7 linked regions of the Homo sapiens genome follow. The protein of the gene in region 3 purifies or fractionates together with the protein of the main gene of each other region. This does not show direct contact. Each region holds a gene or a part of one and is shown on either strand. Other genes may lie near its edges.

Evidence for each region.
Region 1: the proteins of TMED7 (region 3) and SMOC1 purify together in Homo sapiens (affinity purification with mass spectrometry; one large-scale study listed by BioGRID and IntAct). This does not show direct contact.
Region 2: the proteins of TMED7 (region 3) and PDPK1 purify together in Homo sapiens (co-immunoprecipitation; one large-scale study listed by IntAct). This does not show direct contact.
Region 4: the proteins of TMED7 (region 3) and SLC30A6 purify together in Homo sapiens (affinity purification with mass spectrometry; one large-scale study listed by BioGRID and IntAct). This does not show direct contact.
Region 5: the proteins of TMED7 (region 3) and HECW2 purify together in Homo sapiens (affinity purification with mass spectrometry; one large-scale study listed by BioGRID and IntAct). This does not show direct contact.
Region 6: the proteins of TMED7 (region 3) and EIF2AK3 purify together in Homo sapiens (affinity purification with mass spectrometry; one large-scale study listed by BioGRID and IntAct). This does not show direct contact.
Region 7: the proteins of TMED7 (region 3) and OCRL purify together in Homo sapiens (co-immunoprecipitation; one large-scale study listed by IntAct). This does not show direct contact.

Annotation. Positions count from the first base shown.
Region 1 is NC_000014.9:70,011,916-70,015,415, forward strand, and holds part of SMOC1 (SPARC-related modular calcium-binding protein 1 isoform 1 precursor), read left to right. Parts: intron 1-1,470; coding exon 1,471-1,576; intron 1,577-3,500. UniProt on the Homo sapiens protein: Plays essential roles in both eye and limb development. Probable regulator of osteoblast differentiation.
Region 2 is NC_000016.10:2,541,021-2,544,520, forward strand, and holds part of PDPK1 (3-phosphoinositide-dependent protein kinase 1), read left to right. Parts: intron 1-3,500. UniProt on the Homo sapiens protein: Serine/threonine kinase which acts as a master kinase, phosphorylating and activating a subgroup of the AGC family of protein kinases.
Region 3 is NC_000005.10:115,619,537-115,623,036, forward strand, and holds part of TMED7 (transmembrane emp24 domain-containing protein 7 precursor), read right to left. Parts: intron 1,145-3,500; coding exon 899-1,144; intron 884-898; exon of another isoform or gene 532-883; intron 1-531. Other genes in the region: TMED7-TICAM2 (TRAM adaptor with GOLD domain isoform 1 precursor), read right to left, coding at 899-1,144. UniProt on the Homo sapiens protein: Potential role in vesicular protein trafficking, mainly in the early secretory pathway. Appears to play a role in the biosynthesis of secreted cargo including processing and post-translational modifications.
Region 4 is NC_000002.12:32,193,364-32,196,863, forward strand, and holds part of SLC30A6 (zinc transporter 6), read left to right. Parts: intron 1-525; coding exon 526-620; intron 621-3,500. UniProt on the Homo sapiens protein: Has probably no intrinsic transporter activity but together with SLC30A5 forms a functional zinc ion:proton antiporter heterodimer, mediating zinc entry into the lumen of organelles along the secretory pathway.
Region 5 is NC_000002.12:196,223,055-196,226,554, forward strand, and holds part of HECW2 (E3 ubiquitin-protein ligase HECW2), read right to left. Parts: intron 2,817-3,500; coding exon 2,718-2,816; intron 1-2,717. UniProt on the Homo sapiens protein: E3 ubiquitin-protein ligase that mediates ubiquitination of TP73. Acts to stabilize TP73 and enhance activation of transcription by TP73. Involved in the regulation of mitotic metaphase/anaphase transition.
Region 6 is NC_000002.12:88,592,965-88,596,464, reverse strand, and holds part of EIF2AK3 (eukaryotic translation initiation factor 2-alpha kinase 3 isoform 1 precursor), read left to right. Parts: intron 1-801; coding exon 802-996; intron 997-2,406; exon of another isoform or gene 2,407-2,552; intron 2,553-3,059; coding exon 3,060-3,193; intron 3,194-3,500. UniProt on the Homo sapiens protein: Metabolic-stress sensing protein kinase that phosphorylates the alpha subunit of eukaryotic translation initiation factor 2 (EIF2S1/eIF-2-alpha) in response to various stress, such as unfolded protein response (UPR).
Region 7 is NC_000023.11:129,571,259-129,574,758, reverse strand, and holds part of OCRL (inositol polyphosphate 5-phosphatase OCRL), read right to left. Parts: intron 1-3,500. UniProt on the Homo sapiens protein: Catalyzes the hydrolysis of the 5-position phosphate of phosphatidylinositol 4,5-bisphosphate (PtdIns(4,5)P2) and phosphatidylinositol-3,4,5-bisphosphate (PtdIns(3,4,5)P3), with the greatest catalytic activity towards PtdIns(4,5)P2.

The sequences.
Region 1 (3,500 bases), on a different chromosome or scaffold from region 3:
CTGTCCTGAGCGATGTGGACAGTGTCTGTTGCTTGCTCTGAAGAGGCAGATGACCCCTGGTGACACAGGACGACCATGGAGTGTGACACAAGACACATAGGCAGGGCCCTGGTACCTCCAAATGGCTGATGTGCGGGTTTCCCCTTATTTATAGCAATCTCTGCCTGCAAGTTACAGTAACATTACTAAATATTGGTGGCTTGGAATCTTATTGTCTTTACACAGCACAAAGTCAGATTAGTGCTGGTGGGAAATGGGCCACCTTCCCATGACCTATCAGGACTCCAAGTGAGAACTGAAAGCAGAGAGTTCTAAGAGTCAGGGATTTTCCACACGAGGTTTGTAGAAATCACCCCATCACAAGAATGGAGTCATGGTGGCCAGGGTACCCCTTTTAGCTAACCCCTCAACAAATGTGAATTGAGATTCTACTATGTGCCAGGCACTGGGTATAATCTAGTGGTCAAAGTTGACATGAGACTTACAGAGTGGAGGAGACAGATTGGATATGAATAAATGAATACAGGCATTTATAGATAGTTGTGGTGGGTACTCTGAGGGAAAAGCGGAACATGCTGTGAGAATGGCAGGGAGAACCTGCTTTAGATTCCACAGCTTCTCTGAGAAGCAAGTGTTGAACCTGAGACCTGGAGGATTTGGGGACAGAAGAGAATGAGCTAGTTGCTAATTTCTATGTGGAGTTGCTTTGGAGAGGAGCACTGGGAGTAGTGTAGAGGGCCCATTTGGTGCTGGTGATCGTGACTTTATAGGACACCCATTTATCCAGTTGTGTGGTGGTGTTTTCCCCAGCTACGTGGTGTAGACATGGAAAAGGCACATCTATAGAAGGTTCTTCTGTGCTTTACTGTGTTTTCCTGGAATAATACAAGGAGGAAAAAAGGAACAAGGACTTGGGAGTATTTACAAGAGAGATGCTGTAGTTATAATGTAAGATGGTTGAGGAGGGAAGTGAAAAAAGGAGGAGGCTCTTGGATGGATCTGGTGGTAGGTGTACTTAAGTCAACTTTGACCACTGGGGGTTCTCTCCCTCCTTTGTGCTCCCACAGCCCCTAGTTCTTACCCCTAGCACAGTATTTTTCTCACTTTAGGACGACTGCTTGGCTATTAGCTTGAGTTCCCCTGTAGATGTGAACTTTACAAGGATAAGGACCTTCTGTATTGTTAACTCTGTATCTCTAGCGTTTAACATGGTGCCTGAGTTGATGTCTAGCAAAAATGTGTGGAATGGAAGAAAATTGAAAGCATTATTTGGTCTGATGGTCCTTTGTGGGGTATGGGTAAAGGAACTATGGAAGTTTATGAGACTCATCTGATCAGTAAACAAATCACTAAAGTGGATTTGGCTGGACAAGAAGGGCTTTGAGAAGTTTAGGAAAGGATGGTAGTTGAGAAAGCTGTTGACTTGATTATTATCTGGCATCTACCTTCAAATCTCATTTTATCTTTTAGGCTGTCCAGAAGGGAAGAAAATGGAGTTTATCACCAGCCTACTGGATGCTCTCACCACTGACATGGTTCAGGCCATTAACTCAGCAGCGCCCACTGGAGGTGGGAGGTGAGATTGTGAGCAGGAATCAGGCCCAGGAGAAAAATGTGGGGCCCCTGACTTTTCAAATGCTGAGGGAGGGTGAGAGAGTGGGCAGGGTTTGAGGAGGGCAAGGGCTGGAAGTTGATCTTTTTCCTGAAACCATGTACCCATAGCTTTGACCCGCCTTCTGTCAAAAATCTTCCTGCCCCTCTACCTTCCCTATTCTTTGGGAGCTGCTTGTCCCTAGCTTTTAGTTACCTGATTTATAGGAAAGTCCAGGGCTGTCTGGGACTTCCAGCTGTTTAATCTCAGAAGGTGATGGGTTGGAGTGAGAGTTCTGAATGGCAGGAAGGGTGATGGTTATATCATGGGAACAGGGAGGCAGAGAGGGAGCACAAAGCACTTTGCAATTTTCTTCTCTCCTAGAAGGCAGGAACCAAATGCCTTTTTGGCATCCTGAGAATTCCAAGGAGCTCTTGGCAATGGAACTGGACACTCATATAGCCAAATACAGCTCAGGTCAGGAATTGAGGTGGTAGCTGAGGCAGTCCTGATGTGAGGCTGAAATGCACATGCTCCCCAGTAACCAGCATTGCTGGCACTCATGAGTTTGGGCCCATTAGGCCAGTCGGTTGGAGATGCATGCACGCATTCATCCATCCGCTTACCACCTTTTGAACATGGAAAACACAGCAAACACTGGGCTAAGGATGAGGTATCTGGGGATAGAGGCATGTCCCACCTTCAAAGGATGCAGCTTAGCGGGGATACTAGACCATAGATAGATACTTACAAAATCTGTGGTGAGTGCTAGGACAGAGGTGGAAGAATGGAGAATGGTTGTCTCACTCAGTCTGGAGGAGTCAGAGCAGGCTTCCTGGAGAAGGTGATATCTGAGCTGAGTTTTAAAGAATGGGTAGGACTTATCTACCTATCAAAGAAAAGATAGGTAGATAAAGAAAAGAGAAAGCCATTCCAGAGAGAAGGAAAGGATACTGTGGCTCCAAGAAAGTGCATGTCTGTGGTTCAGTTAGCTTGGGCTGGGGTGGATAGGCGGAGGAGGAGGAAGCAGAGGAGGTAAGAGTGGTAATCGTGAGATGGAAGAGGTGGGCAGGACTCAGATCCCGAAAGTCCTGTGAGACATGCTGAGTAAGACTTCTGCTCATGCTCATGAAGCCAGAAGGGGAAGCACAGCAGAGACTGTTGGAGACAAGTGTGGTAGTGTCTAGGCTCCTTACAGCAGGAGGGGAGGTACTCTAGGCTTGGCAGGGATGGGCAGCCTGCTCTGAACTTATATGGCTCACTGAGGAGGGAGCGTTAGTCCCCCGGCATCTGCCCAGAGGCAGAGCTGTTATCCATAAGGCAAGGAATGCCACAAAGAGAACAAGCCTAGGCCTTGGAAGGACCCCAGCATAGCTCCCTCAGTGGTGATTGGCAGGACCATGTGGTATGTGTTTAGGGTAGGAGTTTAGGGCTCCAAGTGGAGCTGTCGACGTTTCTGCATCCTGAGGCAGAAGAAGGCAGCCATTTTGAAAACCCAATTTTATATCAAATCAAAGTGAGTGCACACAATAGCCAAGATATGGAAACAACCTCAATGCCCATCAATGGATGACTAGATAAAGAACATGCGGTATTTGTATACAGTGGAGTAATATTCAGTCTTAAAAGAGAGAGAAATCCTGTTATATTGGGGGCATTATGCTATGTGAAATGAGCCAGTCACAAGCACAAATGCTGCATGATTCCACGTACATGAGGTACCTGAAACAGTTAGACATGTAGAAGCAGAGAGCAGAATGGTGGTTGCCAGGGGTTTGGGGAGTTGCTAACCAATGGGTGTCAAGTTTCAGCAAAGCAAGATGAATGAGTCCCAGAGATCTGCTGTCCAACATTGTCCTTATAGTTAACAGCACGGTGCTATACACTTAGATGTTTGTTAACAGGCTAG
Region 2 (3,500 bases), on a different chromosome or scaffold from region 3:
TGTGATGTATTCCTGTACGCAACGTTGCCCTGACAGCCAGTCCAAGCTGAGTCTAGAGCTGGCAAGGTGAGCTCCCAGTGGTAAGAGGGAAGTGGTTTGTTCTGCTTTTCTGAGATGTGTTCTTATGAGAAGGATCCAGCAGCAGCCTGCAGAGATGTGGGGCCTGAAAAGAGGCCTTGGGCAGCTCTTCTTGACAGGTCTTGGCCCTCTAGACTGCCTTCAGCACAGTTTTGGGGAGAAACAGGGAGTGTTCCTTTTTCAGTCTATGCACTCATCCCCTGAGCCGCCTGACCCAGGGTTTAGATGCTCCAGGGCAGCTGATTGACACCGGTGGGAGACGGAGTCTGGCAAGCAGGTGATGAACTGGGAAGCGCTGCAGAAATGAGGGGGCAAGCGTGGCCAGTCCCTTCTGAGAGGATGTGTTTGGAAGAGAGTGGGCACTGGCGTGGCACTTTCCCCTTCTGAGGAAATGGACAGGATGCCACGTGGTGCTGCAGTTCTGTGTGGGGCAGGTTGTGGCTGCAGAGAAGCCCTGGGTGCAGAAACAGTCCCCCAAGCAGGTGCGAGGGCCAGGGTGCTCTATGCTGCTCCACACCTGCTGTGCGATGACATGTGGCCACTGGGCTGCCCAGCACAGTTGTTTAGAAAGCAGGTTCAAAGGGCAGTGTGCTGGGAGGAAGTGCTGCTGTGGAAACTGCAAGTTTTGGACATGAGTTGCTCAGGTCTTTTCAGCCGTGCATTCTTCTACAGCAGAATTGCATTATTCACTTGCTCAGTGTGATACCATGTCCTTTAAAAAATTATTTGAATATTGAGAACAGGTTGTATGTTCCGTCTCTAGCTGCTAGATCACAGGCAGGGCACATCTTCTCAAAGAGTAACAAGGCATGGGTTGTGTGTGTTCTCTTCTCTTAGTGAGGAGAAAGGCCTGTTTGGGTTCATGATGATTGTTGGGGTCTCTTTTCTGTACCTGATGTTGGTTGCACAAAGTCCGTTTCCATTCTCTTAGTCTAGACAATTTTCCTGATATTTAAACTGGAATTTTTGCTCCAAGAAATTCCAGGTCATTTAGAATGTGTTAAGATTGAGTTTCTGGGCTACACATCCCTTATAAGAGCACCTGATTCTGGTTTCTGTTTGTTTATTTATTTATTTTTTCGAGACAGTCTCGTTCTGTCACGCAGGCTGGAGTACAGTGGCATGATTTTGGCTCACTGCAACCTCCGCCTCATGGGTTCAAGTGATTCTCGTGCCTCAGGCTCCCAAGTAGCTGGGATTACAGGTGCGCACCACCTACATTATTTATTTATTTAATTTATTTATTGAGATGAGGTCTCACTATGTTGCCCAGGCTACTCAAACTTCTGGTCTCAAGGGATCCTCCCGCCTCGGCCTCCCAAAGTGCTGGGATTACAGGCATGAGCCGCCGCACCCAGCCTGGTTTCTGTTTAAAGAGTTGGATTATACAGGGACCCACAGAATTGGGAACTGACAGTACTGTAGAGCCTGTGTATGAAAAAGATGGACAAGCCTGACATTAGCAGCTCACTGTTGAGCACACGGCCCCCTGCAGAATAAACAAGTGTGTGGTTTCCATCTGATGAAGGTGGGCATGTAGTTCCTGGACAGTCCAGTGACTTCCGTCATTCCACAGACAAGATCAGATGCCCTCTCTACCAGCCACCGTGCTGGGACCGGCCCAATCTGTGTTTCAAGTCAGCTTGTAGCACGCAGGGATTCGAAATATTTAAAGATGAGGTTTGAAGGTAGGTCTGGAGACCAAGGACGTTAGTTCTGGAGGTCCCCGTCTCCTGCGTGTTTGCGGAGCTGGTGACAGTGCCCTCTCCCCGTGCTGGAGAGGGCTGAGGAGAGGCTGTGTGTCTCAGCAGGATGCCAGTCAGGATTCTTCTGGCTATGGGCTTATTTTTTGCAATAAATTCATCGTTAAAGTCCCATTCTTTAACCTGTTTTTTCCCTTTTGGAATTAATTCGACTGCAGTAGGAAGGGGTTGTAGCTGAAAGTGACCGCTGTGCATTGAATGCCATCAGAAAAGGCTGATGAGATTTGCAGGGAAGACTTGAAGCCTCACTGAAATGCGCCTGGCGTGTGTTGACCTTTGCAGTGGAACATGTGGGAAAGGGGCCCGCACTCACTTTTCAGTTCTGCCTCGGTGATTCCAGGAGCCCCGGGGTTGGGAGCGGGGACAGGACCTTGCTCCTGAGTCTTAGGTGTGGTGTCTCTCGCCCCTTGCTGCATTGGCGGGACCCTCGGTGCCGCGGCCTCAGTTGCAGGGCGGCCAGGGCTGCTCCGTGAAGGAGGCGCTCACTCCATGGAGCTGCAGGACGCTGCATTCTCCTCACTCTGGCCATTGCCGCTGTCCTTCCTGCTTCCCCTTTTCTGGTGAGGGAGGGCTCCAAGGACTTGCTGGCTGGTCCCCAGATGCCAGCACTCCTGCATCTTCCCCTCCTCTCCTGGCCTGTCACTTTGTTCCTCCTCTGTGAGGGGCCCAGGCTCGGATGCCCGGCCACGGCCTCTCTTTCCAGCCTGTGCGGCCCAGGTGGGTCCAGGATGTTCCCTGCTGCCCTGTTCTCAGCAGTTCTTGTCTTCTTCAGGCTTTTCCTCCTTGCCTAGAGAAATTTCCCTACATGGAAACCCCTGTGGCTGTACAGTCTTTTCTGACCAGTCTGCTGGGTTTTTTGTTATTTGTTTTTTGTTTTTGAGACAGAATCTTGCTCTGTCGCCCAGGCTGGAGTGCAGTGGCACGATCTCGGCTCACCGCAACCTCCGTCTTTCAGGTTGAAGCAATTCTCCTACTTCAGCCTCCTGAGTAGCTGGGATTACAGGCACGTGCCACCGCACCCGGCTAATTTTTTTTTTTTTTTTTTGTAATTTTAGTAGAGACCGGGTTTTGCCATGTTGGCCAGGCTGGTCTCGAGCTCCTGACCTCAGGTGATCCGCCCACCTCGGCCCCCCAAAGTGGTGGGATTACAGGCGTGAGCCACCGTGCCCGGCCTGCTTTACTATATTCTTTAGGGAATCATGACAATAAAAAAAAGTCTGTGCATGTTCAGTACAGATGCAATTTCTTGTTTTTCTAATATTTTCTATCCACTGTTGGTTGAATCCATGCATGTGGAGTCAACCTATGGTTGGGGATGGCAGACTGTATGTACTCTCCTGATAGGTGGTTACAAAGTGTTTCTACCTGAAGAGACCTGGTTGCAAAGCAGCATGCCCAGTATAACTTTCCTCAGGCCCAGGGAAAAGCTTGGAGGGAGGTTCCCACAGAAATATTAGCAGTGGTTTCCTGGGCCAGTGGGATGAGGACCACACATTGAGCTAGCAGTGGAGAAACAGTGGTGAATAAGGTAGGTCTGGCTCTGTCTCCTGGAACTTACTGGACTGAGGATGAACCTTTCTCCACTAATTTTTGTTCTGAAAAATTTCAAAACCGAAGAATAGTTGAAAGCATAGTACAATGAATATCCCTAGCCTTTTC
Region 3 (3,500 bases):
AGAAGTGCTTTGAATTTCAGATTTTTTCTGATTTTGGAATGTCTACATATACATAATGAGATATCTTTGTGATGGAACCCAGGTCTAGACATGAAATTCATTTATGTTTCATATATGCCTTATACATGCAGCCTTAAGGCAACTGTATATGATATTTTCAATGATGTGTCATGAGATCAGATGTAACAATCTTCCACTTGTGTCATCAGGTTGGAGCTAAAAAAAAGTTTTGGATTTTGAAGCATTTTGGATTTTGCTGTATTTGAACTAGAAATAAAACAGTCCTCATCACCTAAGCAATAGTTGTTCACTGGGTTTAAATTTTTTACGCTTTCTCTATGTCTCCAAAATAAATCTGAATTTAGCTTTTGTAACTATTTTTGTGAGATGACTTACCATTAATCTTCAATATTTCACCTAAAGTTACAGCACAAGTTACTGTTACAGCAGCTTGAGTAACACTAAGTAATGGTATAAAGGCTATGATATGGTATTATTTATCTACTAATTTAGGCATCATTTTGCTTCCAGTTACACCAGCCTCCTGAGTATGACAGCAACATTCCTTCAGGGATTAAAGAAAATGCTTCAGAAGATTGGAACACTGCTCAGCCTTCCCAACCTTCTTTTACCACTGATGTTTCTACCTTAGTGATCTTCCTCCTTATTTTAATGCTTCTTTCTCTTTACAATTAAAAGTTCATAAAATCTTTCAACATTATTTTTCACTACAAAAGTCTGAAGTTCTCTGTGAAATGCCTACATGTAAGAATTAAGATAGATTTTAAAGACTGTCAGTCTCAAAATTCCATGCTCATCAGTTAGTGCATGATATTAAATTATGCTTTTTTCCTCCTTTTAAATATACCAACATTATATTGCTGATTTTTTTATTTACCTGGGTAAGAGCACTGACTCGGTTCTCACTAGGAAACAAAGGTGGGTCTTCTCCAACTTGAAAATCAAAATATACAGTTTTATGTGTGAAAGTAGAAAATTCATTGCTGAAGCAAAATTTGTATGTCCCATTTTTGGAGGCTGTGAAGGTAAAACTATCATACTGTTTCTTCATCTCTTTGTATAACACTTTACCATCAGGATCTTCTAATCGACAATCTACATCATAGTGACCACCAGTAATCACCTGTAAGAGATTAAAAAAGAAAAATCACTGTGAAAAGTGTGAAAAATTAATCAGATTTAATCAGATTTCCTATTAAAATGGCAATAAGGTGATGGGCAAAGGACTTTTACTATCTTTTTAAATTTTCACCAGTGGATGGAACTTGGGAGATTTTACTTCAACTAAACTTTACAGAAACTGAACAAGTATTCTCCAACTTTTATTCACTTTGAACTAGCCAGACAACTGTGCTAATTAATGGAGATCTATTAGATCACTTAATTCTCCCAGCAACCCTACAATATACTTTTTTCCTTCCATTTGACAGACTGAAAAACTGATGTTAAATAAGCGAACTATTCAAGACTGTTCATCTAAATTAAGTGGGAAAGGCAGAACTTGAACTCCAAAGTCATATTCTTAACCTCTAAGCTTACTGCCTGCAATATTTTCCTTCTGAAAATTTTCTAACCCACTTTCCTATTAGCATCATCCAAGCACACACACAGTGAAGTAACAAGGTAGGCCAATCCTTAGGATTACACCCCATTCATACTTCTATCATAGAACTTAAGCTCATTTTACTGCCAAATTACAAATAGATTACATTTATTAAGTTCTTTTATAGTCAGTTATATGGAATTTGATATACATTTTGTTTTGAACTACACTATAAGTTGAGTAACGGAGTGGGCTATTCTAAAAGTATATAATCATTTACAACCTTGTTTTGAGGAGAGACACGTAACTGATTAAATAAAATATTGTTGAAACTCTTGTGATTAAAGCAAAAACAAAATAACATGAAGGACAACAAGTCTGTTTATCTAGAAAGCCAGTACTTAATGGCAAACATACTGAATGGAAGCCTGGAGGTAGGTGATATGAGTCTGAACAGAACTGTGGAACTACTTTCCACGGCTTATGCTTAATCAGTTACAATTCCAGCCATTTGGGTTGTACAGAGGAGGGAGAGATTTTTCCTGCGGTAACTGGATAAGTATTGTAAGAGACAAAAGGGGGAAAGGATTAAAGAGAAAGGCTTCCTTACATGAGAAAGAACTGAGTAGGAAGAAAGAGGGAGTGCAGAGAGGTGAACAGAGTGAACGTATACACATTGGGTTGAATGAAGGGTTCCCAAACCACCATGTGATTGGGGAGCACAAGATTGTTATTTTCAACCTTGAACTCTCTTGGTTAGCATCCTGACATTCTAGGTCAAACTTTGGATTTAAAAGAAGGATCTGTGTGACCTTTTCTCACTTGAGAGAAGATGACTAATGAACTATGTTACATATCATTTTGATAATCTAATGAAAATAATTATGCACTTATGAAACTGTAAAAATATGTAAATGTTAATATACAGATAAAATGTTTTGATATAAAAGTGTCTTATCAATTGGGGATTTACCAATCCCCATCCTCACCAAAAAGTCAGTAACTTTTTCTCCAGGTGAAAATAACTTCATTTTGCTATACTGAATTATACGTATTTGACCATTGTATTCTGAATAATCAAACACATACATACAAACCGAATAGCACCAGAACTTATCATCACCCCACTTCTCTTCCATCAAACTTAAAACAAGTAATCTCACTTAACAGTATCCCTTTAAACCTGTCCAATCACCTACTATTGAAACTGAGGATCATCCCAAACTAACTGTCCCTATCTATCCATATGATCACACAAATCTCTCAATCTTTTTGCCCCTCTCAAATTCATCGCATTCCGAAACCACAATCCAGACAGGACTATTGCCACAACTTCCTAAAAGGTCTTCCCACTACCCAATATCTTCTCCCTCGAACTCAGGGTTTCTCAACCTCGCATTATTCCCATTTTGAACTGAATAATTCTGTGTTGTAGGAGGCTGTATGGTCCTGTGCACTGTGACACGTTAAACAGCATACCTGGTCTCTAACTACTAGATGCAGGTAGCTGCCCTTCTCCTAAAATGATGCCGAATGTCTCCTGGGAAGAAGGGGTGCCCATCTCCCCATCTTTCCTCATTCCCCATTGAGCAATCACTTAAAAACTTTTTGATAATTACCTGTGGCCTGCAGACAAATCTAAACCTCTTAACAATGGTATACTATTCACATGTTCTTCCTCCCAGGTAGCTTCAGAACCTCTTTTATTCACACCCTTACTCGTTCTATGTTCCTAAAATACCAGACTACCAGAAATTCTCTGAACAAGTCTTTGCTTTACATCTGCACTGACAGTGCAGTTCAACAGGGTTTGCTAAAGAATCACACGGATCAAAATGACAGTGTTTGCAAATCTACAGTTTATTACTGTAGGTTATGTTATAAATCTACAGTTTATAACATTATACGACTATATATGTCTATGTAAGCTCTCTGA
Region 4 (3,500 bases), on a different chromosome or scaffold from region 3:
CAGGAGTTCAAGACCAACCTGGACAACAGAGTGAGACCCTGTCTCCAAAAAAAAGAAACGTATATATGTTTCATATATATTGCAACTATGTGATTTTCATATATATATGAAAAGAGAATTGTATGTATCATATATATGAAAAAACAATTGTATTTCTCAACCACAGAGCTGCCAACTATATGGACCTTATCTATTCTGATCAGTTTAATTCCACAAAGTCTGACTTGTCCAGTATATCGTAAAACAAATACCATTGATATTTATACAGATTTATAACAGCGTTTACCTGTAGCAAGATACTGTTAATGCTAAAAGTCCTTACTTATCCTTTGTAAGATGGAGCAACAGTAGATGGGACATGGGTGATGGGGCTAGTAACTAAGTTCAGATTCTGTATCTGGAAACACCAAATCATTAAAGCAGACCACTTTACCTTCCCACCTCTTAGTCCCTCTACGTATTGAAATTACATACTGATAATACCAAGAACAAATTAAAGGTGAATGTTATCGTTGTTCTTTTTAGGGGAAGATTATTAGTTGGTACTTTTGTGGCTCTTTGTTTCAACCTGTTCACGATGCTTTCTATTCGGAATAAACCTTTTGCTTATGTCTCAGAAGGTATGTTTTTTATTTACTATTAATTTAAAAATCCAACTAATCTCTCATAAAAACAAGCCTTTTGTTTGTTTCGTTCACTCAGATCAATGAAGAAGTATATTCTGAAGACAAGAGAGAACTAGCCCAAATGTTCTCAAGTCTTTTTTAAGTGGAAAATTATAAAACAAAATCTCATTAGTTCAAGCTTTAAAATAACAAATTATTTTAAAACAGGCAGGAGTGACCTGTAAATTAAATCATGTGGTGATGAAAAATTACATTTACCAAATAATGTGAGATTCTAAATGTGTAATCTATCTAAGAAAAGTCTATTGTAAGCATTTTAGAAGTATCAGTATACTTAGAATTCTTAGTTGATATGCTAATTGAAAATAATTGTATTCTGTTAATAAAGTAAGTTCCCAGGAACTTCTCTTTGGCAATGGTGGATGGGCATATATGTTTGCAAGTAGCCAAACTTTATTTCTTTGGAAATATTCTTTTATTTTGAAGTATTTACAACTTCAGACTGATTTTTCACTTTTGCAGTCTAAATTATTTTCTTTTTTCAATAATTTCAGTGTTTTGGAATCCCACTAACCCACAAAAGAGTTAGCCACTAAGAGATGGAGAAGTGAGGTGAAAATAGAAGTGGGATGTGTGCACAGACCCACACTTTGAAGTATAGAGAAGCACAGATAGGTGTGGATCTTTTTAGATCTCACTCTAGGATAGTCAAGAGAAGAAAGTTTTCTGAAATGCCCATTCAAGTTTAAACAACTTCATGAATGTTATGAAGATAAATTGTGTTTGTATGAGTTAAAGAAGTACTGCATGAATTAGAAAATTAAATAATGATAATTAAGATCACTAGAATTTCTTGAAAAAAATTCATAATTTATAAAATACTATAACACTTACTCTAGAAATTTTTAAGATGGTGCAAAGATTTAGAAACACTGTTTCCCTGTAAAGATCAGGGAGATACAAGAAGGAAATAAGACTACTGATAATCTTATGACCCACAGATAATATGTTAACATTTCTATGTTATTCCTTCCACTTTTTTGTATGCACACGTACATATAATTTTATGTGCTTACTTAGAATTGTATATATTACAGTTTTATGCCTGGCTTTTTTTTTTTTTTTTTTGAAACGGAGTCTCACTCTCTTGCCCAGGCTGGAGTGCAGTGGCGCAATCTTGGCTCACTGCAACCTCTGCCTCCTTGGTTCAAGGGGTTACAGGAATGTGCCACCATGCCTGGCTGATTTTTGTATTTTTAGCAGAGACGGGGTTTCCCCATGTTGGCCAGGCTGGTCTCACTCCTGACCTCAGGTGATCTGTCCACCTTGGCCTCCCAAAGTGCCGGGATTACAGGTGTGAGCCACTGCGTCCGGCCATGTCTGGCTTTTTGATTAGCATTATGTCTTCAGTATTGCTTCTCATTAAATACTCTTTGAATGTAAATGATTTTTTAATGTTTGCATAATATTGTTATGAATATTTTAAAATATTTTATACATTTCTAACTTTTCCTTTTATAAATAACTCTATAATCAGCCTCTTTAGATCAACTTCGTCTGCATTTTTTATTCTTTCTGTAGGATAAATTCCCCGAGAAGGAATTATTTACTGGATTAAAAATACAGTATTTTTCAAAGGCTTTGTTGTATATTGCCAAATTTATTTCCAGAAAAGTTATCTAGTTTATATTTTTATTATATTATATTATATTTATTTATTTATTTATTTTTTAATAGAGACAAAGTCTACCTGTGTTACCCAGGCTGGTCTCAAACTCCTGGGCTCAAGCAGTCCTCTCACATCAGCCTCCCAAAGTGCTGGGACGACAGGCGTGAGCCACTGCTCCCAGCCTACTTTATATTTTCATTAGCTGGAAATGGAGGTTCCCAGAAACATCAAGATTTGTGACATTAGCTGGGCTTGGTAGCATGTGCCTCTAGTCCCAGCTACTCAGGAGGCTGAGGTGGTTGTATTGCTTGAGTTCAGGAGTTTGAGTTCAGCCTGGGAAACATAGCAAGACTCTGGCTTTAAAAAAAAATGAAGGCTGGGTCTGGTGGCTCACACCTGTAATCCCAGCAGTTTGGGAGACCAAGTCAGGCGGATCACAAGGTCAGCAGTTTGAGACCGGCCTGGCCAACATGGCAAAACCCTGTCTCTACTAAAAAATTATAAAAATTAGCCGGGCATGGTGGCAGGCGCCTGTGATCCCAGCTACTTGGGAGGCTGAGGCAGGAGAATCCCTTGAACCCGGTAGGCGGAGGTTGCAGTGAGCCGAGATCACGTCATTGCACTCCTGCCTGGGTGACAAAAGTGAAACTCCATCTCAAAACAAAAAAAAAAGAAAAAAGATTTGTGAAATTACTTGAAATTTGAGTGGGAAATAATATTAAGTACTTTCTATATGCCAAGCACTGCTAAATACTTTACATAGAATAACCTATTTAATTCTAGCCAGGTAGGTACCCAGGTTCTCACCTGGCTTTTTTGAGAGTTGAGGGAATTAATTTGTATGTAGTTTGAATATCCCTTATCTGAAATGCTTGGGGCCAGAAGTGTTTCACATTTTAGATTGTCTTAGATTTCGGAGTGTTTGCATTATATGTATGGGTTGAGCATCCCAAACCTGAAAATTTAAAATTCGAAACGCTCCTATGAGCATTTCCTTTGAGTATCATGTTGGTGCTCAAAGTTGTGGATTTTTGGTTTTCAGATTTGGGATCCTCAGCCTGTACCTATGGCCCGTTCTCAGCACACTAGTTAGGAAGCTCTGCTTAAAAGTATAAAGAACTGCTGGGCATGGTGGCTCACACCTGTAATCCCAGCACTTTGGGAGGCCGAGGCAGGTGGATCACCTGAGGTCAGGAGTTCAAGAC
Region 5 (3,500 bases), on a different chromosome or scaffold from region 3:
AATTTTAAGGGTCATTTTTTTTCAGTTCAATCTGAACATTCATTAGGCATCAAGCATGTACCAGACATCTGAATAGCTACTTGATGAATAGTCACTACCCCCAGGAGCTAATGGGCTAGTTGGGGAGCCAAGTACACAAACAGATAAGTTAATATAAAGCGATAAGTGATAACATAAGATTGGTAACACTTAAAATTCATGTACTTTTAAAATCTATGTCACACTTCAATTTAAGAAAAGATAAGGTAGGGATAGGGATTTAGGTGTCAGAGCACACATGAGGGGCCTTTTCTTTGACTGAGAGATTCAGGAAAAGCTTTTTGCAGAAGATGATGCCTACATTAAATCTTTCAGGATGTTTAAAAGCAAGAGACGTAAAAAGGAATACATGAAGGAGGAGAAGGGGAAAGAGAAAGGAGAAAGAGAGAATAACATGAACAAAATACAAGGCATGGATGTGTACAGGAAACTCCAAGCATATCAGCAGTTTGAGAGAGTTAACCTTAAGACAGAATTTCTAGAGAATGAGGCCAGCAAGGGAGCAGGCCTTAATATCATCCTAAGGAGATTGGTGATTCAGAACTACCAAAAGATTTTAAGACAGGGCATGACATGATCAGACGTGAAATGTGAATTATAAACAGCTCCTCTGGAAGTCCCAGTGTGAAGGATTATTTAAAATGGGGTGGGATGAGGGGTGGTTATCATTAGAGGGTAGAGACCAATGAATAGACCACTACAGTAATATGGCCAAAATAAGATAAGGGCTCTAACTAGGGCTGTGCTATTAAGGTTGGAGAGAAGAAGATGAATTTGAAAATCATTTAGGAGGCAAACATGTAGCAATCAGGAAATGGTTTTATTGGGGGAGTATAAAGAAGGATATCTAAAACAGGGGTGACAAACGAACTCATGTCAAAACTAACTGTAATTAATTGCTGGGCTTGAGCACTATAAGTTAAAAAGATTTCTGAGGCCACAGTGAGTTCAGTGGGAAAAAGTACCACAGGTGATTTGTGAACTCTACCCTGGGAATGATGGGGTAGAGTAGAGATGGGGAAGAGTAGAACATGTACCGTGTGTATTTGTCATCGCTGTTTAAGGGTGACTCCCAATTTCTGACCAGAGTGGCCTGAGAATAGTGGCACTATTAACTGTAACTGGGCATATGGGAGAAGGTATACTTTTACGTAGGGAAACTTGATGAGCTTAGTCTTAACCATGTTGATTCTGAGATCCTTGTAAGACATCCGAGTGGAGATATTTGGTGGACTGTTGACCATGTGAGGCTACACCTTAAGGGAGATCATGACTGAGAGTACAGATTTGGGAGTCAGAGGAGATAAGACAGGAGAAGAAATTCCCCCATGAGAGCACACTGAGTGAGAAAACGAGGGGCCTGGTGATAGAAGCTTCAGGTACACCAAGACTTAAGGGCAAATCAGAAGAGGGACTCATGAAGGGACAGAAAAGTTAAAAAAAAGAACCCGCAAAGTACAGTGTCATAGATGCCAGCTCTGAAGGAAAGACACAGGAATAAATGGTGGCGGGTGTGGGTGGTGCACAGTGTCAGAAGCAGCAGCATGATCCAATAAGATACGGACTAATCAGTATTCTTTAAATGCCTCCACAGGTTTTCTGGTGGGAAAGAAACCAGGCTGAAGTGTGCTTAGGGTGTGAATTTGAGGTAAGTGTAGACAGTCAGTATAGACTAGTTTTTCAGGAAGCTTAAATGAGAAGATAAGAGATAAGGCAATGAAATGGGAAGATGCAAAGTGGGCCACAAAGAACCAAAGAGACAGAAAACGGCACCTGTTCCCCAGTGCTACAGCTGTGAAGACACTGAAAGAGAAGAAGGCAAAAGTCTTTCTACTGACCCTCCCAAGGGCCCACAAGAAGCATTTTGTTTGCTTTCATTTGAGGTCTAGGCTTCCATTTTACAGTAAGCAAGTGCGTGGCCTCAGTTAGGGTATGAGCTGGACAGAGCCAAGTGATAATTCAGTGCATTCTCATCGCAAATTTGAGCTACTATCCCACAGACAGTTGTCTTCTGTTCAGCCTTGTAAATGGCTGCTGATTATAGGACAGAAACAATTAGCCCTACATTTTACAATAACTGCAATCTTTCATTAACAATGAAGAAAAAGTTCTGTGAATGCTGAATTTTCATTTTCCATAATAAATTACTAAGGGCATAGAGAAAGTTTAAGAAACATATGGCACTGTCCACCCTTGACAAACAAATAAAAAACAAAACCAAAACAAAGGAAAATGAAGATTTGAACGAGGAGTAAGCATTTGAAAATATGCATCAAGCCAAATATAAAATGTGTCTCATAAAGGAGAGGGGGGCTGTGAGTCACTAAGACTAACCCACAACAATTCTATTAATAATCTGCATTAATACCACAGGAATCCCAGGGCTGTGTTTGAAGTACAATTGTTTTAAAGAAACACATGCTGCAACAAATGAGAATAAATTTTGGGGGGTAGAGCAAAACTAAAAATCTGGGGGCTAAATAGGTCAGAGGCAGGAAAAACACAGTAATCATATTTGAAATTGCATTAGTTTCAGAAATCTAAACCACTATTAGGTTTAATAACAACAAATTTGAGATTGTGAACAGATAAACAATGACTTTGACAGAAGAATTTTTTCAAAAAAGTAAATACTGCATTTTACATGCTAATTATGCAGGCAATAAAAATATTCTTACATTCTGAGAAGAGCCTTATAAAAGGGCCGTGTGAAGAAGGCATCCAACAAATACTGGTGTATTAGTGCAAGACCAAGGATCCTACCACTGAATCGGAACCTGTGAAGGAAACACATGAGATGGCTTACATGTCATGGAGCAGTTTCTAGGTGGTTCCATATGCTTTCTAGAATGCCTTCCAGCGCTAACCATCTAAATTTTTCCAATATTAATTGCCTACTAGGTAGTGAGAATTTGTAGGCACCATGGGCTGTGTCTTCATCAGGCCAGTGGTACAGTTTGTATACTTGTCCCTGCCCAAATGTCATGTTGAATTGCAATCCCCATTGCTGGGGGTGGGGCCTGGTGGGAGGTGTTTGGATCATGGAGGCTGATCCCTTATGGCTTGGTGCTATCTTCATGATAGTGAGTTCTCATGAAATCTGGTCATATAAAAGTGTGGCACCTCCCTCCAACACACACACACACTCTCTCTCTCTCTCCCTCCTGCTTTTGTCATATGATGTGCCTGCTTCCCCTTTGCCTTCCACCATGATTGAAAAAGCTCCCTGAGACCATCCCCAAAGCCCAGTGATTTGGGTGCTATGCTTCCTGTACAGCCTGCAGAATCATGAGCCAATTAAACTTCTTTTCTTTATAAATTACCAGTCTCAGGTATTTCTTTATAGCAATGCAAGAATGGGCTAAAACAGCCAGTAATTCATACCTACTTGTTGAAGAATCAGTTTCACTCATATTTAGAGACCCTGCTCCACCTTCACTGCATATCAACAATGTAGCACC
Region 6 (3,500 bases), on a different chromosome or scaffold from region 3:
TATCACCTAACATACCATATAATTTACTTATTTATTAAGTTGTTTGTCTCGTGACACCAGAGTTTAACCTTCACAAAGGCAGTGATTTGTTTGCTTTGCTCGCTAATCTATCCCAACCATCAGAATGTGCCAGGCCATAGGTAAGCCCTTAATAAGCATTGTTAAAAGAAGGGAGGGCAACCGAGAACACAAAACCAGTAAGCTTACTTACTAGGCTTCTATCTCATTGCAGATTTGAGAAAGCAAATGAAAGAAGGGATGGGACACTACTTGAATCAGTATCTCTAAACCTGTGTTCCTTGGAGCTGAGTCTATGACAGTAATTGGCCTTGATAAAAATAGCCCTAGAAAATACTGCATATATTATCTATTTACACATTAAATATTCATATTACACATATTACACATAATCATGTTACACATTAACATACTAATTGCTATAAGAGCTCCTATAGTAACCTCTTCTTGAACTCACTTGATCATAAAACTCTCTTTTGGTAACTCACCTACCATTATGGGACCCTTTTGGCCCATGGTAAACTGAGTTTGAGAAAAATCTTACTAGAGTACTATGTGTAGGGCCTGGGAGTGATTGGCAGTTCTTTTAAATTACTTTTGGTTGATGGACTGCACTGCTTCATGTGCTACTCAGAAGGAGGCTGGAGTACATCAGGATCAAGACTCCAGCTCTTAATTACTATTATTCTTTTAAAGGTATGATGCTTCTATTTTTCTGGGAGAAATAAGAAAAAAATAATAATTAATGTTATGGCCCTTTTAAAAAGTTAGCTTCTGTTTTAGGTATTTGGGAATAAGATGATCATTCCTTCCCTGGATGGAGCCCTCTTCCAGTGGGACCAAGACCGTGAAAGCATGGAAACAGTTCCTTTCACAGTTGAATCACTTCTTGAATCTTCTTATAAATTTGGAGATGATGTTGTTTTGGTTGGAGGAAAATCTCTGACTACATATGGACTCAGTGCATATAGTGGAAAGGTAAGTGAAAATGCTGAATTTACTTTGGGGAAATCAGAGTAAATTAGGGTAGAAAAAGTAATTTATTAAACTACACTTATTATTAGTTGAGTTTTATTGTAATTTTCCCCTGAGGTTGTCATTTGTTTTAATAAGAGAACTGTGAGGTAGGAAGGGGAAACTAATAACAGAATAAATGGCAGAGCCAGGAATAGCAGGAGGAAGAGAATTCATAAATATGGTCTACTGTGTCTCAGGTGTTTTTTTTTTTTTTTTTTTTTTTGAGACAGAGTCTCACTCTGTTGCCCAGGCTGATCTCAGCTCATGGCAATCCCCACCCCCACCCCATTCCACACCCCCTCAGGTTCAAGTGGGTTCAAGCGATTCTTGTGCCTCAGCCTCCTGAGTAGCTAGGATTACAGGCACATGCCACCATGCTTGGCTAATTTTTGTATTCTTAGTAGAGACAGGGTTTTACTGTATTGCCAGGCTGGTCTCCAGCTTCTGGCCTTAAGGGATCTGCCCACTTCAGCCTCCCAAAGTGCTGGGATTATAAGCAGGAGCCACCATGCCCAGCCTCAGGTTCTTTTTTTTATACATTATTTTGCAATCTTCACAGTCTTCCTAAGTGTAACTTTCGTTTTTTTTTTTTTTTTTTTACATTTTGACAGATGAAGAACCTTATAAAGATTAATAGTAATCCTAATGATAAGAATAATTGATACTACTCATTTATAGGGTTTGATCCTATAATAAGGTGATCCAAGAGGAAAGTTTATACTCATTTTACAGATGAAGAAACTGAGACTTTAAAAGGTTCAGAAACTTCCAGGGTCACATTTAACTTAGATCTATCTGACAACAAAGTCATGCTGTTAATAATCTAGACTTTCTCCAACATTAGCTCTTAGGATATAATCATAATATAATCTGCTTCTAAGATTGGGTCTTATAAATCCATTATCAAGAGTAGCTAATTAAAAGCATCCTTTCAACCAGGCAAGGTGGCTCACACTTGTAATCCTACCACTTTGGGAGGCCAAGGTGGGTGGATCACTTGAGGCCAGGAGTTCGAGACCAGCCTGGCCAACATGGTGAAACCCCATCTCTGCTAAAAATAAAAAAATTAGCTGGGGATGGTGGCGCACGCACGCCTGTAGTCCCAGCTAGTCAGGAGGCTGAGGTACGAGAATCACTTGAACCTGGGAGGTGGAGGTTGCAGTGAGCTGAGATCACACCATTGTGACGTGTAAACGGTTTATATACAGACTTGGACTAAAATAAGGAAGAATAGAAACGTGGTCTTTTTACTCTTGCATTTTTCAACTTTAACAATTCCTTATCTAAGTGTTAGGCCCATAGCACTTTCTTGCTCTTGCAGATGCTTTTCTGCCTTCTCCACCCACCTGCATCTGCATTGTGTTGAGGAGGCCATGCCATCCTATCTGGCCGTTTTTTGAGCAAAGCACTTCAATCTCTGTTTACTTCGGTAGTCTCATCTGTAAACAACAGGATTGAACCCGATCACCTGGTTTTCCGATTTGATGTGCTGCTACATAATTCTGGTATTGTAGAAGGTATGCTTTTCGTGAGGATTTTAGTTTGGATCATATTAACTCTTCCTTTTTTCTTTAGTGAAAATTTGAGGCAGTTACTTTTGAATACAAAAAGCTCTCAGAAAAGTTTCAAATTTTTAAAAACCAAACACTTTTGTTATACAGAAACTCTAAGGTTGATTTTTTTTTTAACTCACCTGAAATTTTATTAATGATATTGTAGAAAAGCTATCACAAGTAGCTATCCATTTCTTCTTGTATATTCTATGGAAATCTCCAAAGTAAGGCTAAAATTATGTAAATCCTTAAAATCATTCCCTGAAATAAATATTCATTGGTACTGTCATTGTTCTAAATAACTCATTTTAGGAGTTGGTAATCTAACTGATGCTTCTTATGACTTGAGTACTTCATACACATTTCCTTAGTTTCCTTTCACTTTTTAAAAATTACAGATTCCTTTAATATCTCTGATCTATTATGAGTTGTCTCCTTTTACTAATTTTGTATCTAATTTTGTCTTTTCAGGTGAGGTATATCTGTTCAGCTCTGGGTTGTCGCCAATGGGATAGTGACGAAATGGAACAAGAGGAAGACATCCTGCTTCTACAGCGTACCCAAAAAACTGTTAGAGCTGTCGGACCTCGCAGTGGCAATGAGAAGTGTGTATTCAGATAATGTTGCTGTTGGTATTATTTAGAAATACACCTAATACCAAAATTTATCAGATTTCTGTTTGTGGAGATTTTGACTATTTTGTTGCCTTAAAAGCATATATATATATATTTTTTTGATACGGAGTCTTGCTCTGTCGCCCAGGCTTGAGTACAGTGGCGTGATATTGGCTCACTGCAACCTCCACCTCCTGGGTTCAAGCGAATCTCCTGCCTCTGCCTCCCGAGTACCGGGGATTACAGGCACGTGCCACCACACCCAACTAATTTTTGTATTTTTAGTAGAGACGGGGTT
Region 7 (3,500 bases), on a different chromosome or scaffold from region 3:
GAAGAATATTTTCTTGCTTCATTGTTAAGTTATTTGGTAGTGGAAAAAATGTGATAATTGTGGTAAAAATGATTGCTTGCACTGTACAAAATGACAGTGTCAAAACACAGCAATTACTGTTTCTAACAATCATAACTTGGTGAGGTGGCAGCAAATATTATTAAAAAGCTTTTAACTCTATTAGATTCTATGTACAATACCAAGAAGTATAATATCACTGCTCAGATTACATAATAGCAGAGATATATTAATAAATGGAACCTACAGCCATTTTAGAAAATGGCTGAAACAAAATGTCCTAGACTAGAGTAAAACCATGACAACGTATAAACACATCTCCACTGATAAAAAAATTTTCCACCTGACACAGCACTTTCAGCTTCCTGATATAGCTGTGTTTTTTTAAATATTAAAACTTCATACAAACCAATGCCAAAATTAACATAACTAACAGATTTTAACTTGAGATATCGGTTTCTTTTTTAGACTAGGAAATTTCACAAAAATTCATGTCAAAAAAAATTGATACATGCAGCAAAGGTTCTAAAAAGATGTGGAAACAGATGCTGGTGAGGCTGTGGAGAAGTAGGAACGCTTTTACACTGTTGGTAGGAGTGTAAATTAGTTCAACCATTGTGCAAGACAGTGTGGCGATTCCTCAAGGATCTAGAACCAGAAATACCATTTGACCCAGCAATCCCATTACTGGGTATATACCCAAAAGAATATAAATCATTCTACTATAAAGACACATGCACACATATGTTTACTGCAGCACTACTTACAATAGCAAAGACATGGAACCAACCCAAATGCCCATTAATAATAAGACTTGATAAAGAAAATGTGGTAAATATACACCATGGAATACTATACAGCCATAAAAAGGAATGAGATCAGGCTGGGCACAGTGGCTCACACCTGTAATCCTAGCACTGCGGGAGGCCGAGGCAGGAGGATCACTAGAGGTCAGGAGTTCGAAACCACCCCAGCCAACACGGTGAAACTCTGTCTCTACTAAAAGTACAAAAAAAAAATTAGCCAGGCATGGTGGTGGGTGCCTGTAATCCCAGTCACTTGGGAGGCTGAGGCAGGAGAATCCCTTGAGCCCGGGAGGCGGAGGTTGAAGTGAGCCAAGATTGCACCACTGCACTCCAGCCTGGGCAACAGAGCAAGACTCCACCTCAAAAAATAAAAAAAGTCATGTCCTTTGCAGGGACATGGATGAAGCTGGAAGCCATCATCCTTAGCAAACTAACACAGGAACAGAAAACCAAGCACCGCATATTCTCACTTATAGGTGGGAGTTGAAGAATGAGAACACATGGACACAGGGAGGGGAACAACACACACCAGGCCACTCGGGGTAGTGGGGCGAGGGGAAGGAGAGCATTAAGGTTAAATAGCTAATGCACGTGGGGCTTAAAACCTAGATGATGGGTTGATAGGTGCAGCAAACCAACATGGCACACATACCTATGTAACAAGCCTATACGTTCTGCACTTGTATCCCACAACTTGAAGTGAAATAAAAATTTTTTAAAATGTTGAAAATAAGAACATCAAAGCTGAGTCAAGTATCTCAGACTGGGGAAGTTTTTCACATATTTGAACTGTAACTCTTAGAGAACCGAGGATCAAACAATCACTTTACCATCACCAGGGTCCATAGTATAGCATTAGTTTAAGATGAATTTTATACTTTTACAAAACTTTGCAACTTTTAATTTCCAAAAGTATTTTGCACATGTCTTTTTATTTTCACAACCTGGAAGGCTACCAAAGCAAGGAATATTTTTGTTCCGATAGTTGAGAACATTAAGATACAAAACAATCAACAAACTTGCTCACTGCTACAGTGAATACCAAAGGTGACATCTGGACTAGTTTAAGACTCTTTCCAATATACTAGATATGTGACAGAATCAACTTGAGTATGTCTTAAAAGCACAGCTGCCTGGGTCTACTAATCACAGCCTCTAGGGGTGAGGACACATGCATCCACACTTTTTTTAAAGCTCTCTAAGCAATTCTTACATCCACTGAAGTCTGAGAACCAATGCAACAGATCACAGTACCAAGTGCAGGGTTGGAACCCTATCCTAGCTCTATCTCAGCCAGCCCACAGAAAGTCTTCTGAAATTAATTGGCCACGGTGCACTTGGCTCCTTTGTTAACAGTCATTGGTGCCAATGGTGGTGAAAATATAGTGTGGTTTTTAAAGCCTCTAATCATAGCATGCCCAAGAATCCAAAACATGGGGTGATTACTCAATAAAATCAAACTTTTTCTCAGCGGGTTATCATGATCACAGCACTTAATGGCAAATCAAAGATAATGAGGAGGGGGGGAACCCCAAAGAATTTCACAACCTGACACATCCATTTTAGTAAAGGAAATTACTGACAAAATTAGGAATTTGAAAAAAAGTACAATGAGCTAGGTCTTTATGTAATAAGATGGGAGGTTCTCCAAGACACACTGCTGAGTTAAAAAAAAAAATCAAGTTGCAGACCAACACATACATATAAGACCGTTTATGATATAGAGACACACACAAATCAGTATTTTGTCTATGAGTGAACAAAAAAGCATATACAAAGGTCTAGAACTGCACTGTCCAGTACAATAGTGACTAGCCACATAGGGAATTTGAATTTAAATTACTTTAAATTAAATTAAATTAGAAGTTCAGTTCTCAGTTGCACTAGCCACACTTCAAGTACTCAATAGCCCCCTGCTGCTAGAAGCCACTGGACTGGACAGCACAGATACAGGACATTTCCATCATCACAGAAAGCTCTATTGGACAGCACTGGTCTAGAAAGATATAAACTCCTAAGGGTAGTGGCCTGGCTGGGGAATGGGGGTTTAGGCAAAGTTGGGAGTAGGAGACAGAACAGGGATTGAAGAACTTCTGCCTTATCTGTCAATTCTGCTTAAATTTCCTTTTAATTTTTTTAAAAGCACTTGTCATTGCTGTATAATTTAAAAATCATTAAAAACTCAAAAGGCATATCTTTATTAAAGATATACATAAATACACAGGAAGCCTGAAAAAAAATGTAAATATCCCACTAGAAGCTCTGCATTAATGTGTATGGAGTATTAAAAACATCCCAAGGTTGGCTGCGAGCGGTGGCTCATGCCTGTAATCTCAGCACTTTGGGAGGCTGAGGCGGGTGGACCACAAGGTCAGGAGATCGAGATCATCCTGGCTAACATGGTGAAACCCCGTCTCTACTAAAAATACAAAAAATTAGCTGGGCGGGAGGCTGAGGCAAGAGAATGGCGTGAACCCAGGAGGCGGAGCTTGCAGTGAGCCAAGATCGTGCCACTGCACTCCAACCTGGGTGACAGAGCGAGACTCTGTCTCAAAAAAAAAAAAAAAAAAACCAAAAAACAAAAAACAAAAACAAACAAAAAAATCTGAAGGTTTTGAAAAGAAATGTAAACAAAAAAGCCAGGCATACCTGATCTAACCAAAGAGGTTAGTGTTT